Regions from separate parts of the Homo sapiens genome. Here region 2 is linked to region 1. A link means that fine-mapping ties the variant in region 1 to the expression of a gene that starts in the linked region. Tissue or cell type: whole blood. Region 1 holds a variant in brackets; the other region holds the start of a gene. All regions are shown on one strand. Distances are from middle to middle.

Evidence for each region.
Region 2: LINC02325 starts here. The variant in region 1 is fine-mapped to the expression of LINC02325 in whole blood (INTERVAL, PIP above 0.99).

The regions. Positions count from the first base shown.
Region 1 is chr14:97,493,476-97,496,390 of GRCh38, reverse strand. All of the region lies in intron 1 of LINC02325 (long intergenic non-protein coding RNA 2325), which reads right to left. Among named protein-coding and RNA genes, the nearest start is that of LINC02325, 36 kb to the right of the region's middle. The variant A/G (reference allele first, on the strand shown) is at 1,565.
Region 2 is chr14:97,457,098-97,460,012 of GRCh38, reverse strand. It overlaps LINC02325 (long intergenic non-protein coding RNA 2325), which reads right to left and starts at 1,197. Exons shown (of 5, transcript NR_110166.1): 1 at 1,086-1,197.

The DNA.
Region 1 (2,915 bases):
TGGCAGATACTGAGATTGCCGTGGATATCTAGTGCCATATATCTTGTCAGAAAAATCACCGTGCCTGTTAAAAAAGAAGAAAGCAAAACTCAGGACTCAGAAGACTGTGCAGTTATCCCACTTTCTCATTCAATTTTTTTTTTTTTTTTTTGCTATTTAAATTTCACTATATTTCTTTTTTTATTCTCTTGCTGGTCTTTATACGTAGGACACAATACACACACACACACACACACACACCCCTCACTCTCTCACTTCTGTCATTTAAAGTATGAAGAAACTAGTGAAGAAAAATCTATTTTCAGCTGTTCCATGTTAGAAAGCTTTTGCCACCATGATGAAAGAAGTGGATTTTGAAGAAAGTCAAGGCACTGATGAAGATGAAGGAATATTCTGACCAGCAGCCATCTGTTCTGTTAATTAAATCCTGTGCACATCAAGTAGTATGCTCTTACGTAACTAATAATTAAGAACTAAAGAGAGGTATGTATGCAGCATCCACTATGAATACTTTTATATATTGAAAAAATAAAAATAAAGACCCAGCCTTACTCTGGTCCATAGTCTAGCGATGATTAAACAGGCATTGATCAGGGCCTTCAAATACAAAACAGGACTCAGGTCTCAGAGAACAAAGGTTTCTATCTGACGCCTTTTCTTCTAATGGTCCTTGTGCAGTAAAAATAAAGTCCAAACACTATAATTTTACTCGCAGAAAAGTTACAAATACTGTAGGTATCTTTAGAAACAGCTGCAAAAGTGGTTTCCCTTCTGACAAGATTGGTGTTAATTACCAGCAAGGACTTCAGTATAATACTATTTAAATCATTTTAAATTATCCCTCTCAAAAATTAATTTTTCATCAAAGATTACACACAAAAAATCATGATATCATCTCTGCAGCTGCGATTTAGTAATAATTTCATCTATTATTACCAATGTCAGTTGGATAAAAGAAAAAATGGCACCCCACCGTGCCGATTCCAGCACAGGCCATATATAGAAATTTTTAACTATCACTTATAATCGCTTTGATGAGCTTAAACCTCCTCTCAATTAACACCCTAAATGACACTGAGACATCTTAATGGGGGATGTAAGTAAGGGAAAAGACTTTAATCAAAGAATAAAGAGAAAAGTGCCAAGAGATAGGAGGGCTTGCCGCACACCTCTTCGTGTCCAATCCCATTGAAGTCCTTTATCACGTTTGGAACCTTTTGTCATTCCAGGATCCAGGGGAAATCTACACGGCGGGGGTAGAAAGACAAGTGGCAGTGGCAAGTTGCTCTATTATCTTTGGAGATATAAAGACTTTTTCAAGGGCCCCCTGGCAGGACATCCAGACAAGAGGATGGGAACTCTGGAATGCTGTCACTTGAACAAGTGCAATAAAGCAGAGAAGCAAAAGGGAAGATATTGTTCTCTTAAGACCATCTTCTGGGCTGTGCCAGGGTAGCAGTTGTGGGGATCCAAGCCACTCACATGTAGGCACCCCAACTCACTCTCAGCAGGGCCAGAGAACAAAATGGGTCCCACTAGGCACATTCGAGTTATGCAAACTCAC[A/G]CAGCTGTGGGGATGTTACAGAAGGACATTTCTCAGGCCATTATTTTTTATCGTGAACTGCTGTTCCTGGGCTTTGGGAGAATTGGGAATAAAATGAAATAAAACAAAATCCAAATGAAAACTGACCAGCATGCTTTACTCTTTTTAAATCGTGTCCATGGTGTCCATGGTGATTTTTGCTTCCAATTAAGACGTCTAATGAACATGTGTTAGTGCCCATGCTCTACTCCCAAGAAACAAACTGGGCAATTAATGGCACTGCAGGAGCCCCGATTTCTTCAGCCATATACACATATTTGGTTGAAAAGGCAAGTTTGTAAATTGTATTTGCAAAATTGAATGAAATAAACTGGATTTTCAGATCTGACTTACCCCTTTATACCTCTAAGCTACTTCAGCCTCCAAAGATGAGAAGAGTGTCCTACTGCTGCATACCTTGTGCCAAGGTCTGGGAAAGAGGATGACACATAAGCTACATTTTTACTGTCAAAAAGGATACTTTTCTGGGTTGTGACAAAGAGGGCTAACATCTGTACAGTACCTAGGGCTGTCATCCAGTGGGAGCCAGGCTCTATATCAAAGTTCCATGAATAACCTATCATGGCTGGCCTCATTATCCAGGATTTGGAGATGAGAAACCAAGGATTGGAGAAATGTCCAGAAAGTGGCACAGGCATAGAATAGAGAAGCCAGGATGTAAAACCAGGCTTTGTGATGGTGGACAAACCAGAGAGAACCTAGATCAAGAGCTTTCTCCAGAATAAAAAGGTTTTGGCTGTCTTCACCTTTTGCTAGTTGCCCAGACATTATTCCTAACCCCATTCCCTCCTCTCACCACAGGAAACTTGATGGTATTACGTTATATTATGTAGAATTTTAACTGTATTTTTTATGTTGTAGATTATCTTTTTACTTCCTTCTTTTTGGATATTACTTTAAACACACACAGACATGTGTGTGCATGGGTAAAACTTAGTGCAATAAATTTTACCAATCTATGTGCTCATCCTTAATATCCATATTTTTCAAAACATCCTCCTTCAGGTGCCCTTCTCTCAAGGATGTTTTCAGAGAGGGCATGATGGGGTAGTAAACTTTCTGAGTCTTTACTCACTTAAAAATATCATTATATTGCCTGTGTGTTGAGAGATAGTTTAGCTTGGTATAAGATTACAACTTAAAAGTGAGTTTAATTTAACACTTTGAAAATAATTCTCTATTCAATGTTGCTATTAAGAAATAAGATTTTAATCTAAATATTATTTCTGTATGGGTGATCTGTATGTTCTCTTGGATAGCTTGTCACTTTTTTCTTTTCCTTTGATGTACTTAAATATAATTATGTTGTCTA
Region 2 (2,915 bases), 36 kb after region 1:
TAGAGTGCAGTGGTGCCATCACTGCTCACTGCAGCCTCAACCTCCTAGGTTCGAGTGATCTTCCCCACCTCAACCTCCAAAGTAGCTGGGGCCACAGGCACATGCCAACATGCCTAGCTAATTTTTTTTATTTCTTATTTTTGTAAAGATGGGGTCTTGTCACGTTGCTCATGTGGGTCTCAGACTCCTGGGCTCAAGCGATCCTCCTGTCTCAGCCTCCCAAAGTGCTGAAAACTACAGGCGTGAACCACTAAACCTGGCCTGTTATATATTAATTTTAATTTAAAATACCCATGAAAAGGGGAGTAGGTTATTTTCAGTACTTAAGGTCCGAATATCGTGGGCTGCTGGGCTGGGGCTCACGACCCATCCGCAAATAACACAGAGGCAGACACAGAGAAAATCAGACATTGAGGCTTTCCTCACCTGCCTCTGTCTCCCTCCATCTCTGCAACTCTGCAATGCCCCAAGCAGGAGTCTGCTTTTTTGTATAATGGGCAACCCAATCTTGGCAGGAAACCAAAAGTCAATTTCCAGGAAAGGCAGAAAAGAGGGCTATAAAAACTAGAGGACCTCTGTGGCCTTGTGGTCACCTCTCCTCTCTTGCAAAGACACAGCTGTCACCAGAACCCCACGTCTCCACCAGCACAATGCCTCTCAAGATGCTGTAAGCGCCTAGGGAAAGCCAGCCTGCTAAAGGACGCACATGTGCGCACACACACAAACTTCAGGATGGCCATCAATTCAGTTCCTCCTTTACCAAACACTGTGACATGCCTTTCCCCTCTTCTCTCTCTCTCTCTAACCAGCCTTTCTCCCCCACCTCTCCCCCTTCACAACGCCCAGTTTTATTAGTATTATTATTCTCTTAAGTGGCACATGTAGTACCACTTCCTGCTCCATGAGGCCCCGCCGAAAGCGACGGAAGCGCGCCCTCCTCGCCGTGACATCTGTCTTGGCGGCAGCCTCCTCAGGCGGTTCTCTTGGCAGCCTCCACGCTGCCACCAGGCCTGTCGGGTGGCTGTACGGCTGACGGGCTGTCACCGCCGCCTCCTCTTGCGGGCTGCCATTTTCTTTTGATTTACCTTTGATTCGGAGGCATTTGCATGCTTTCATCACTTGGTGGACAAAGTCCTCGGCAAGTCTCCCATGGCTGCTTTCTGTGTAGGCAGCCAGGAAAGGGGCGGATCCCTCTGTGACTTTGCTTTGAGGTGTAAATGGAGGCCCGGCTGGCCTATGTCACGGGGAGCCCGGAAGCGGGTGTAGACTGTCACTTCCCAGCTCCCCGGGAGACGCTATGTAGTTGCTCCTCGCTTTGGCTAGGGAGCTGCTTCGCCAGTGACAAGTGTCCCCCGTGTCAATTAGTTTATTAATCACCCAGCTAGACAACTTGGTAATGTGGTAATTTCAGGGTTAGGCTGCACCGAGTTCTTCCTTTTCTGGCTGGGCATAAGAGCTCGTTAAAGGACTTCCCCTGCTCTCCAGAAAACTCTTTCTCTGCCTTTGTGCATATCCCAGTGAAGCCATTCAAAACTGCAACTCCTCTTCCCCGGCGTGCGGACAGGAGGGAGGACAGGGTTAAATTGCTAATCGAGGTTTCGTGAGGTCTGCCAGAGCCGAGTCTCCAACACTTACATCTGTTCAACAATTATTACAGCATTTTTGTCATAAAAAATTCAACACCCTGAGTGTCGTGCTAGCAAAACCTGAAAATTTATGCAGTGAATAGAATAGCTAATTTCTCTGAGGAAATGCAGGAGGAAAATTACAGATTTTACTTAAATTCCAAACACCAGAGTGCACACATCTGACGCCCTCTTTGGATTTTTTGTCAACCACCGGACCGAAGACGCCTTCCCGTCCACCAGGAAGCGGGGAAGACCCTGGACACATGCTCTGACCTTGGAAGAAGCCGTACTGTGAAACTCCAGACTGATCTATGCACCCACCCAGAGTGTCTCTAAAAGACCTCTCTCCCAATTAAATCCATGCGTGGTACAGAGTCAGACTTCGATTCCGGAGCGAGGTTAGCGTGATTGGTTTGCGTTTTTCCCACTCCCTTCTTCCAATTTGCCCCCCACGCCTTTAAAACAGCTCCTTGGAGAAAACAGAGGGGATGGAGAAGAGCCCCGACAGCATCGAGAGTCTTAAATCTCCTTAATTCATTCTAATGCTGTTTGATGCTTGCAACGGCAGCATTGGAGTTTGCCTCTCTGCTCCATAAAGGTCTGGAATATGGATTTTATGCTAAAACTAAAGCTGTCTAGTTAGGATGCCAGCAGAGTGGAACAATATGCTACAGGCGATCCTCAACTATTCTCCAGGGCCGGAGCCTGACTTCCCGACTGGGTGTTTGTTACCTTAATCATCATTGCAGCGGGATGAACAGGAATTTCTTGCACTGCCACCACAGTGGCACAATTAACGTTATCCGAATTTTCAGAGATTCTACTGCAGAGAGAGGATACTTGCTCCCCTCTGTTAGTGACTGCTCCAGGGTCCCTGTTTATTTTCCCTAGAATGAGGTGGTCAAAGGAACCAGCTGCCCTCTGCCCACTTACTCTGTCTCATGACAGCTCAGCATGGTAAATATTTTCTCTGTAGGGTCTCACATCTCCTGACCATCTCACCTCAGGGCTGGGGAGCACAGCCACACGCCAAGAGCAGAATCCATCACTGGCATTTATGTCTTAATAAAAGCGTGTGCCATTTTCAGATAAAGTAAACACTGCAGCCATTTCCTCTTGCCAGTAGAGGTTTTTCTCTCTTTCCTTCTGAGTCATACCCTTCTAGAAGGTGCAATGTGCCTTCAGAAGAACCCAAGGAGGCTGTGATTCAGAGGTTCCAGAAACAGACACAGCTCTCCAGGCCCTGTGAGTGGCAGTGACAGAATGAGGAGTCCTCCACCCCCTGCA